Regions from separate parts of the Homo sapiens genome. Here region 1 is linked to region 2. Evidence: fine-mapped expression QTL. A gene starts in region 2. The other region holds a variant in brackets. All regions are shown on one strand. Distances are from middle to middle.

Region 1 (4,389 bases), 160 kb before region 2:
TGTGGATTAGGCCAGAGGGGACAGAGTGGAGGCAGGGGAATGAGTCTCACTGGCCAGGAGGGAGAAACAAAGGAAAGGAGGGGCCTGACCAGCAGAAAGACATTGTGCAAACCGAATCACCTCTATTTATGACTGCAGTGAGCTCTCAGCAGTGCCTGTTGAACTAGGCTGCAGGGCTTCCATAATGTTATCTTGTTGTAGCATCAAAAGGCTTAGTTTTTTGTTTTTTTTTTTAAGTTTTTAAAATGGTTTAATTTCTTTGAATATCATCGGACTAGAGTTTGCCCAGGTGGCAGAATTTAGTTAGGGCCTTTAGCTGAAAATTGTTAGTGCAGTGAAGGTTTACCCTGAGTGGGCAAAATATTAAGGATCCCTTTCAAGTTTATTTTCAATTGATAAAATGCTTATTCTCCTAACCAATTCTTCTTTTTTTTTCTTTTTCAACTTTTATTTTAGAATCCAGGGGTACACGTGCAGGATTGTTACAGAGGCCTATTGCATGACTCTGAGGTTTGGGGTATGACTGAACCCATCCCCCTGGTAATGAGCACAATCCCTAATAGGTAGATTCTCAGCCCTTTTCCTTGTCCCTCTCTCCCGCCTCTAGCAGTCCCCAGTGTCTACTGTTCTCCTCCTTATGTCCATGAGTACCCATTGTTAAGCTCCCACTTATAAGAACATGCAATGTTTGGTTTTATTTCTGCATTAGTTCACTTAGGATAATGGCCTCCAGGTGCATCAATGTTGCTGCAAAGGGCATCATTTCATTCTTTTTTATGGCTGCATAGTATTCCATGGTTCATACCACGTTTTCTTTTTTTTTTTTTTTTTCATTAAAGTAGGCCTTTAATGGTGGAATTACAGTCATCTTAGTTGAAGAGATTTGTTTTTCTTTGTTTTTTTTAAGTTTTAGGGTACATGTGCACAATGTGCAGGTTAGTTACATATGTATACATGTGCCATGCTGATGCGCTGCACCCACTAACTCGTCATGTAGCATTAGGTATATCTCCCAATGCTATCCCTCCCCCCTCACCCCACCCCACAACAGTCCCCAGAGTGTGATGTTCCCCTTCCTGTGTCCATGTGTTCTCATTGTTCAATTCCCACCTATGAGTGAGAATATGCGGTGTTTGGTTTTTTGTTTTTGCGATAGTTTACTGAGAATGATGATTTCCAGTTTCATCCATGTCCCTACGAAGGACGTGAACTCATCATTTTTTATGGCTGCATAGTATTCCATGGTGTATCTGTGCCACATTTTCTCAATCCAGTCTATCATTGTTGGACATTTGGGTTGGTTCCAAGTCTTTGCTATTGTGAATAATGCCGCAATAAACATACATGTGCGTGTGTCTTTATAGCAGCATGATTTATAGTCCTTTGGGTATATACCCAGTAATGGGATGGGTGGGTCAAATGGTATTTCTAGTTCTAGATCCCTGAGGAATCGCCACACTGACTTCCACAATGGTTGAACTAGTTTACAGTCCCACCAACAGTGTAAAAGTGTTCCTACTTCTCCACATCCTCTCCAGCACCTGTTGTTTCCTGACTTTTGAACGATTGCCATTCTAACTGGTGTGAGATGGTATCTCATTGTGGTTTGATTTGCATTTCTCTGATGGCCAGTGATGGTGAGCATTTTTCCATGTGTTTTTTGGCTGCATAAATGTCTTCTTTTGAGAAGTGTCTGTTCATGTCCTCCCACTTTTTGATGGGGTTGTTTTTTTCTTGTAAATTTGTTTGAGTTCTTTGTAGATTCTGGATATTAGCCCTTTGTCAGATGAGTAGGTTGCGAAAATTTTCTCCCATTTTGTAGGTTGCCTGTTCACTCTGATGGTAGTTTCTTTTGCTGTGCAGAAGCTCTTTAATTAGATCCCATTTGTCAATTTTGGCTTTTGTTGCCATTGCTTTTGGTGTTTTAGACATGAAGTCCTTGCCCATGCCTATGTCCTGAATGGTAATGCCTAGGTTTTCTTCTAGGGTTTTTATGGTTTTAGGTCTAACGTTTAAGTCTTTAATCCATCTTGAATTGATTTTTGTATAAGGTGTAAGGAAGGGATCCAGTTTCAGCTTTCTACATATGGCTAGCCAGTTTTCCCAGCACCATTTATTAAATAGGGAATCCTTTCCCCATTTTTTGTTTTTGTCAGGTTTGTCAAAGATCAGATAGTTGTAGATATG[T/C]GGCGTTATTTCTGAGGGCTCTGTTCTGTTTCATTGGTCTATATCTCTGTTTTGGTACCAGTACCATGCTGTTTTGGTTACTGTAGCCTTGTAGTATAGTTTGAAGTCAGGTAGCATGATGCCTCCAGCTTTGTTCTTTTGGCTTAGGATTGACTTGGCAATGTGGGCTCTTTTTTGGTTCTATATGAACTTTAAAGTAGTTTTTTCCAATTCTGTGAAGAAAGGCATTGGTAGCTTGATGGGGATGGCATTGAATCTGTAAATTACCTTGGGCAGTATGGCCATTTTCACGATATTGATTCTTCCTACCCATGAGCATGGAATGTTCTTCCATTTGTTTGTATCCTCTTATTTCGTTGACCAGTGGTTTGTAGTTCTCCTTGAAGAGGTCCTTCACATCCCTTGTAATTTGGATTCCTAGGTATTTTATTCTCTTTGAAGCAATTGTGAATGGGAGTTCACTCATGATTTGGCTCTCTGTTTGTCTGTTGTTGGTGTATAAGAATGCTTGTGATTTTTGTACATTGATTTTGTATCCTGAGACTTTGCTGAAGTTGCTTATCAGCTTAAGGAGATTTTGGGCTGAGACAATGGGGTTTTCTAGATATACAATCATGTCGTCTACAAACAAGGACAATTTGACTTCCTCTTTTCCTAATTGAATACCCTTTATTTCCTTCTCCTGCCTAATTGCCCTGGCCAGAACTTCCAACACTATATTGAATAGGAGTGGTGAGAGAGGGCATCCCTGTCTTGTGCCAGTTTTCAAAGGGAATGCTTCCAGTTTTTGCCCATGCAGTATGATATTGGCTGTGGGTTTGTCATAGATAGCTCTTATTATTTTGAGATACGTCCCATCAATACCTAATTTATTGAGAGTTTTTAGCATGAGGGTTGTTGAATTTTGTCAAAGGCCCTTTCTGCATCTATTGAGATAATCGTGTGGTTTTTGTCTTTGGTTCTGTTTATATGCTGGATAACATTTATTGATTTGCATATATTGAACCAGCCTTGCATCCCAGGGATGAAACCCACTTGATCATGGTGGATAAGCTTTTTGATGTGCTGCTGGATTCGGTTTGCTAGTATTTTATTGAGGATTTTTGCATCAATGTTCATAAAGGATATTGGTCTAAAATTCTCTTTTTTGGTTGTGTCTCTGCCCAGCTTTGGTATCAGGATGATGCTGGCCTCATAAAATGAGTTAGGGAGGATTCTCTCTTTTTCTATTGATTGGAATAGTTTCAGAAGGAATGGTACCAGTTCCTCCTTGTACCTCTGGTAGAATTCGGCTGTGAATCCATCTGGTCCTGGACTCTTTTTGGTTGGTAAGCTATTGATTATTGCCACAATTTCAGCTCCTGTTATTGGTCTATTCAGGGATTCAACTTCTTCCTGGTTTAGTCTTGGGAGAGTGTATGTGTCAAGGAATTTATCCATTTCTTCTAGATTTTCTAGTTTATTTGCGTAGAGGTGTTTGTAGTATTCTCTGATGGTAGTTTGTATTTCTGTGGGATTGGTGGTGATATCCCCTTTATCATTTTTTATTGTGTCTATTTGATTTTTATCTCTTTTTTTCTTTATTAGTCTTGCTAGCGGTCTATCAATTTTGTTGATCCTCTCAAAAAACCAGCTCCTGGATTCATTAATTTTTTGAAGGGTTTTTTGTGTCTCTATTTCATTCAGTTCTGCTCTGATTTTAATTATTTCTTGCCTTCTGCTAGCTTTTGAATGTGTTTGCTCTTGCTTTTCTAGTTCTTTTAATTGTGATGTTAGGGTGTCAATTTTGGATCTTTCCTGCTTTCTCTTGTGGGCATTTAGTGCTATAAATTTCCCTCTACACACTGCTTTGAATGTGTCCCAGAGATTCTGGTATGTTGTGTCTTTGTTCTCGTTGGTTTCAAAGAACATCTTTATTTCTGCCTTCATTTTGTTATGTATCCAGTAGTCATTCAGGAGCAGGTTGTTCAGTTTCCATGTAGTTGAGCGGTTTTGAGTGAGATTCTTAATCCTGAGTTCTAGTTTGATTGCACTGTGGTCTGAGAGGTAGTTTGTTATAATCTCTGTTCTTTTACATTTGCTGAGGAGAGCTTTACTTCCAAGTATGTGGTCAATTTTGGAATAGGTGTGGTGTGGTGCTGAAAAAAATGTATATTCTGTTGATTTGGGGTGGAGAGTTCTGTAGCTGTCTATTAGGTCTGC
Region 2 (4,389 bases):
CGCCAATGCACTCTAGCCTGGGCGACAGACAAAGACTCCGAGGGAAAAAAAAAAATTTTTTTCAAGAGAAAAAAAAATTGCTTAAGTGATTTAACCACTTCATCACAAAAGAACTATTTAAAATTTATCAGAAATCTATATTCTGACAATTACCTTTGGGCCAAAGAACCCAAAGTACAAGACCATATGCCAAAGTAGTCTAATCAGCACTCTGAGGTAGGCCCTCCCAGTTTACAGAGGCACGTATTACAGTCTTAGGCCTCAGGCTCTTTCACCATGAATTGGTAAGAACTTTCATAACTCTAAAAGGTACATCAAGGGTTCATTAAAATACCATTAGAACACCTTGTAAAACCACTAAACAGCAAATATGTCTTCCTTGGCTAATGGGAACTGAAAGAATTGTGAATTCATGTGAAAACTGGTGCTACTGTGGAAAAGTGTCTATTCTTTTAGGGTTATCTCAAAAGTCGGAAGCATTTTTGTAGCTCAATATATGAAGCTCAAACAGTGGTTACATTCAAGTTTGGCATATTCTGAGTTTTTATCTTGTTACTGTGGTTCTGTATCAGACATCTGGTCTCTTGCATCTCACCGAGCCTCTGTTCTTCTCCAGCCAGAAAGGAAATTCAGAGGTTTCACTGAGGGGGAGAATGGGAAGCTGTTAAGAATTGTAAGAGAAAGTTCTTACAATTCCTGGCCAGCCACAGTGGTTCATGCCTATAATCCCAACGCTTTGGGAGGATCACTTGAGCGCAGGAGTTCAAGACCAGCCTGGGCAACATGGCGAAACTCCGTCCCTACTAAAAATACAAAAATTGGACGGGCGTGGTGGCACATGCCTGTAATCCCAGCTACTCGGGAGGCTGAGGTGGGAGGATCACCTGAGCCCAGGAGGTCGAGACTGCAGTGAGCAGTGTGACTGGGCCACTGCACTCCAGCCTGGGCGACAGAGACCCTGTCTCAAAAAAAAAAAAAAAAAAAAAAAAGGGCGGGGGGCCAAGGGGCTCAAATCCTAACCCACTATTTTTTTTTTAAGCAAAGATTAGAAAAAATTAATGCCAAGGTTTTTTTTGTTATTAATCCTCAGTATGATCTTGCTAAACGATGCATTGTTACAACTCTCAAACTTTCAGTTTGAGGAAGACAACGGCAGTGCCCCCACAAATCAACCAATTTTTCAATTAAAGAGGAGTCCTGGTGTGATAGAAAGTTAAGGAATTAGGAACAACTGATAACAACTTTCTAGGTCTTGCTGGGAATATCCTGATTCACTCATCCAAGGGGCCTCATGTCCCTCGTGCGGAGTATGAAAGACTGTATTAGATCTCCGTGGATCTTCATCCTGGCTCTAAAAACTGCCTCTTTGTAAGTTCATGGCTAGCTTCCACAATTTACCATGGTATGAGAGGAGGGAGGCAGGATTAATTCTGCCCACAATCTTGAGGACGCTGAACGTGTTTTGGTTCATAATTTGACAAAAATGACATTTTTTTAGGTTACAGTAGAGGGGGGAAGCCCGTCTTGCTGGTCAAGGGTGACTGAAACTTTGCTGAAAGACTTACTGCCTGGCTTGTACAGCCACCGCTTGTGTAATAAGGCCATCCCCTCGGACTCAGGTGGTTAAACATCAGGCCCTGCTGCCCAAGTGTGTCCCCAACCCAAGGTGCACCCTGGGGGCGCTGAAAGACCAGGGGTCGCTGGGGTGAGTGCGGGTTGCTCCTGGAGTTGGGCGCTCCAAACGTCCTCGGAGTCCTAACTCCAAAGCAGCATGCCGGGGTCCCAAATACTCTCTTCTCTTCAGCCCAAGCTCTTCCCCACCTCTTCCTAAATCCCGAAAAGGGCGCTGAACCCGTTCATCAGGAGCCCGGGAGAAAGGGAGGGAAGGCAGAGGGGGGTACTCGCGGAGTGAGTGGCGGCCGCAGAAAAGGACAGGCCTTTAGTACCAGCCAAAATATTGTTTTTTAAGCCCCAGCCCAACCGCAGGGCCTCCCGAGAAAAGACTTCTTCGGCCGTCTGGACAGAAGAAGCGAGCGGCCGAAAGAAGGACAAGGGGGAGGAGGCGTGAGGTCCTTACCCGCTGCAAAGCTGCCGGCTGCCGGCCGCAGCCGCCGGCTCCAGTACCGGAGACCGGAGGCAGCTCCGAGGAGCCGTAAGGAGGCTGCCATGCTGCGCCCGCCCCTCTCCCCGCGGTGACCTCCGCCGCCTCCCGGAGGGCCCACAGACTGCGAGCGTGTGCAGCGGGACTGGCTGGCTCGCCCACGGAGAAGGGCGCGCGCGCACGCGCTCTCACCGCTCGGGGGCGGGTGCCCACGCGCGAGGGAAGGAGCGCGGAGCCGAGAGGAGCGGCCTGACGCGGCAGGGCCTGTCAATCCCTTTACGGACAGGGAAGCAGACCAATCAGAATTCCCAGGTCCGCAGCTGTGCGAAGGACCAATAAGAGGCCTTTTTGAACAGTGACGCCAGGCGCCCTGGCGCTGCCCCCAAGCTCGTGCCTCATTTACAGCCTGCGGGCGGGAGTCTCCTTGTTTACCAAAGCAGAGGGCGTGTGGGAGGCGGGGGCCGTCGCTCGCTCCCGCCTCCTCGGAAACCTTGTCCCCACAACCGCTGCGTGTTAAAAAGGACAAAACTGACTCGCAGCTTGAAAAACACTCAGAAAGCTACCATGTGTGTAATAACTTTTAAATTCATTTGATTTTACTTAACACAACAGTTTCTCAATACTAAAAATAGTAGGAAAAGAAGTTGGTAACATTATCTTTGAAGGGAAGAGTTACTAGAAACTTGCACTTTCTATTTCAAGGCATATTTCTCTAATCTTTGAAAATTCTACACCCTAAATCCATTTTGTAAGCAAAACTAAATATAAAATCCAGAAAGTAGTAGTATATGTATGTGTATTAGAAAGACCTTTTTTTTTTTTGGAGACGGAGTCTCTCTGTCACCCAGGCTGGAGTGCAGTGGCGCGATCTCGGCTCACTGCAATCTCCGCCTCCCGGGTTCAAGTGATTCTCCTGCTTCAGCCTCCGGAGTAGGTGAGGTGGGACTATAGGCCTGCGTGCGCCACCACACCCGGCTAATTTTTTTGGCACTTTGAGTAGAGGCGGGGTGTCGCCATTTTGCCTAGGCTGGTCTCAAACTCCTGGCGTCAAGTGATCCGCCCGCCTCGGCCTCCCAAAGTGCTGGTTATTACAGGCGTGAGCCACTGCGCGGTGCAGAGAGACAGACATTTAGTCATTCTTCTGTCAATGCTTAGTGTACATATTTGAGTCTGTAAACCCCTTGGGGGTAATTGCAGGCCTTCTCATCTCCACTGACTCCACCAAAGGGTTGGAAGCCATGACCACACCAAAGCAAGACTATAGCCTTTGGAGAATGGCAATACAGCAGGAAAGAGAATGTGTATGGAGTAGCTAGGGAAATGCGAACCCCAATCTAAGTAGCACAATCAACAAAATTTGACTTTGACCTTTTTTTCAACTCAGTAACCCATGGAGTTGAAAGCAAAGGAATTGGATCATTTCCATCTGGGCTCTTTTCATGTTTCTGGGCATGCTGGCAACGTTTCCAAAAACTTAAAAACTTGTACAGAGTGCAAGGTCCCTATCTGTAACTGGGAGGAAGTTAATGCCCTTCTTTGACCATCACTCCACCCCAACCCTCTACCCAACACTAAATGAAAAGAAGGAAGGAAAGGGACGAAGGGAGGGAGGGAGAAAAAACTCATTTCAACAATTAGACCTTCTCCTAGATTTGGGTCCCCACCCCTACTAGGGGTAAATTAGTTTCTGGAGCATTTCCCACCTGTGCCTCTCTTCCTGGTTTCGTCAGGTTTTAGCTGGAATAGATCTCCTGCAGGCAACAAATGTGGGCCTACAGGTTTCTTTTTCTTTTTCTTCCTCCAGCACTACAGGTTTCTATAATTAACTCCTGAACTGCAATTGGTCTTTCAACTGTGTCTCCTCCAAGAAGCCCTGCATTGTCTTCTCCAACAATGTCTCCTCCAAGAAGCCCTACATTGATTCATAAACTAAGGAATTTTCATAGGTTTCCATGATTTTAAAGAAGCGTTATGAATTTTTAAGTAATTCTTACTGTTTGAAGGTGCTTGCAGATATTATTGTACTGGCAAATGCAGTTCCTGCCTATGGCTGGTTAGCTTTCTTCATTTGATTGCCCTCCTGATGCCCTTGTTTGAAAGGCACTGCAACTCCTCCCTGAGTCTTTGCCACGCATTTTTGTTTGTAATTGTTTCAATGCCTTATAGTGGCCCCTGACTTCCGCTTCCAGGAAGATGGAGTAGATAGGTTTCTCCCTATTCTTCTAAGTACAACTAAAAACTCAACATTATATATAAGATAAACATAGGGAGACTTTGAAAGGTGGAGA

Alleles and levels. Alleles are on the strand shown, and positions count from the first base shown. SD is a standard deviation of normalised expression in the study named.
In carriers of allele C in region 1, the expression in adrenal gland of the gene that starts at base 2,263 in region 2 tends to be lower than with T alone (small effect, 0.25 SD a copy in GTEx).

The links. PIP is the estimated chance that this variant, and not a neighbour inherited with it, causes the effect. A credible set is the group of variants that fine-mapping cannot tell apart.
Region 1: its variant is the best candidate, but not a certain one, in a credible set for the expression of HIBADH in adrenal gland (GTEx, PIP 0.83).

The regions. Positions count from the first base shown.
Region 1 is chr7:27,501,308-27,505,696 of GRCh38, forward strand. No RefSeq gene overlaps it. Among named protein-coding and RNA genes, the nearest start is that of TSL, 110 kb to the right of the region's middle. The variant T/C (reference allele first, on the strand shown) is at 2,188.
Region 2 is chr7:27,660,621-27,665,009 of GRCh38, forward strand. HIBADH (3-hydroxyisobutyrate dehydrogenase) reads right to left here and starts at 2,263. Exons shown (of 8, transcript NM_152740.4): 1 at 2,078-2,263. The coding sequence starts at 2,168. All of the region lies in intron 2 of LOC105375211 (a long non-coding RNA gene), which reads left to right. RefSeq lists an enhancer at 2,000-2,817 and a silencer at 2,033-2,452.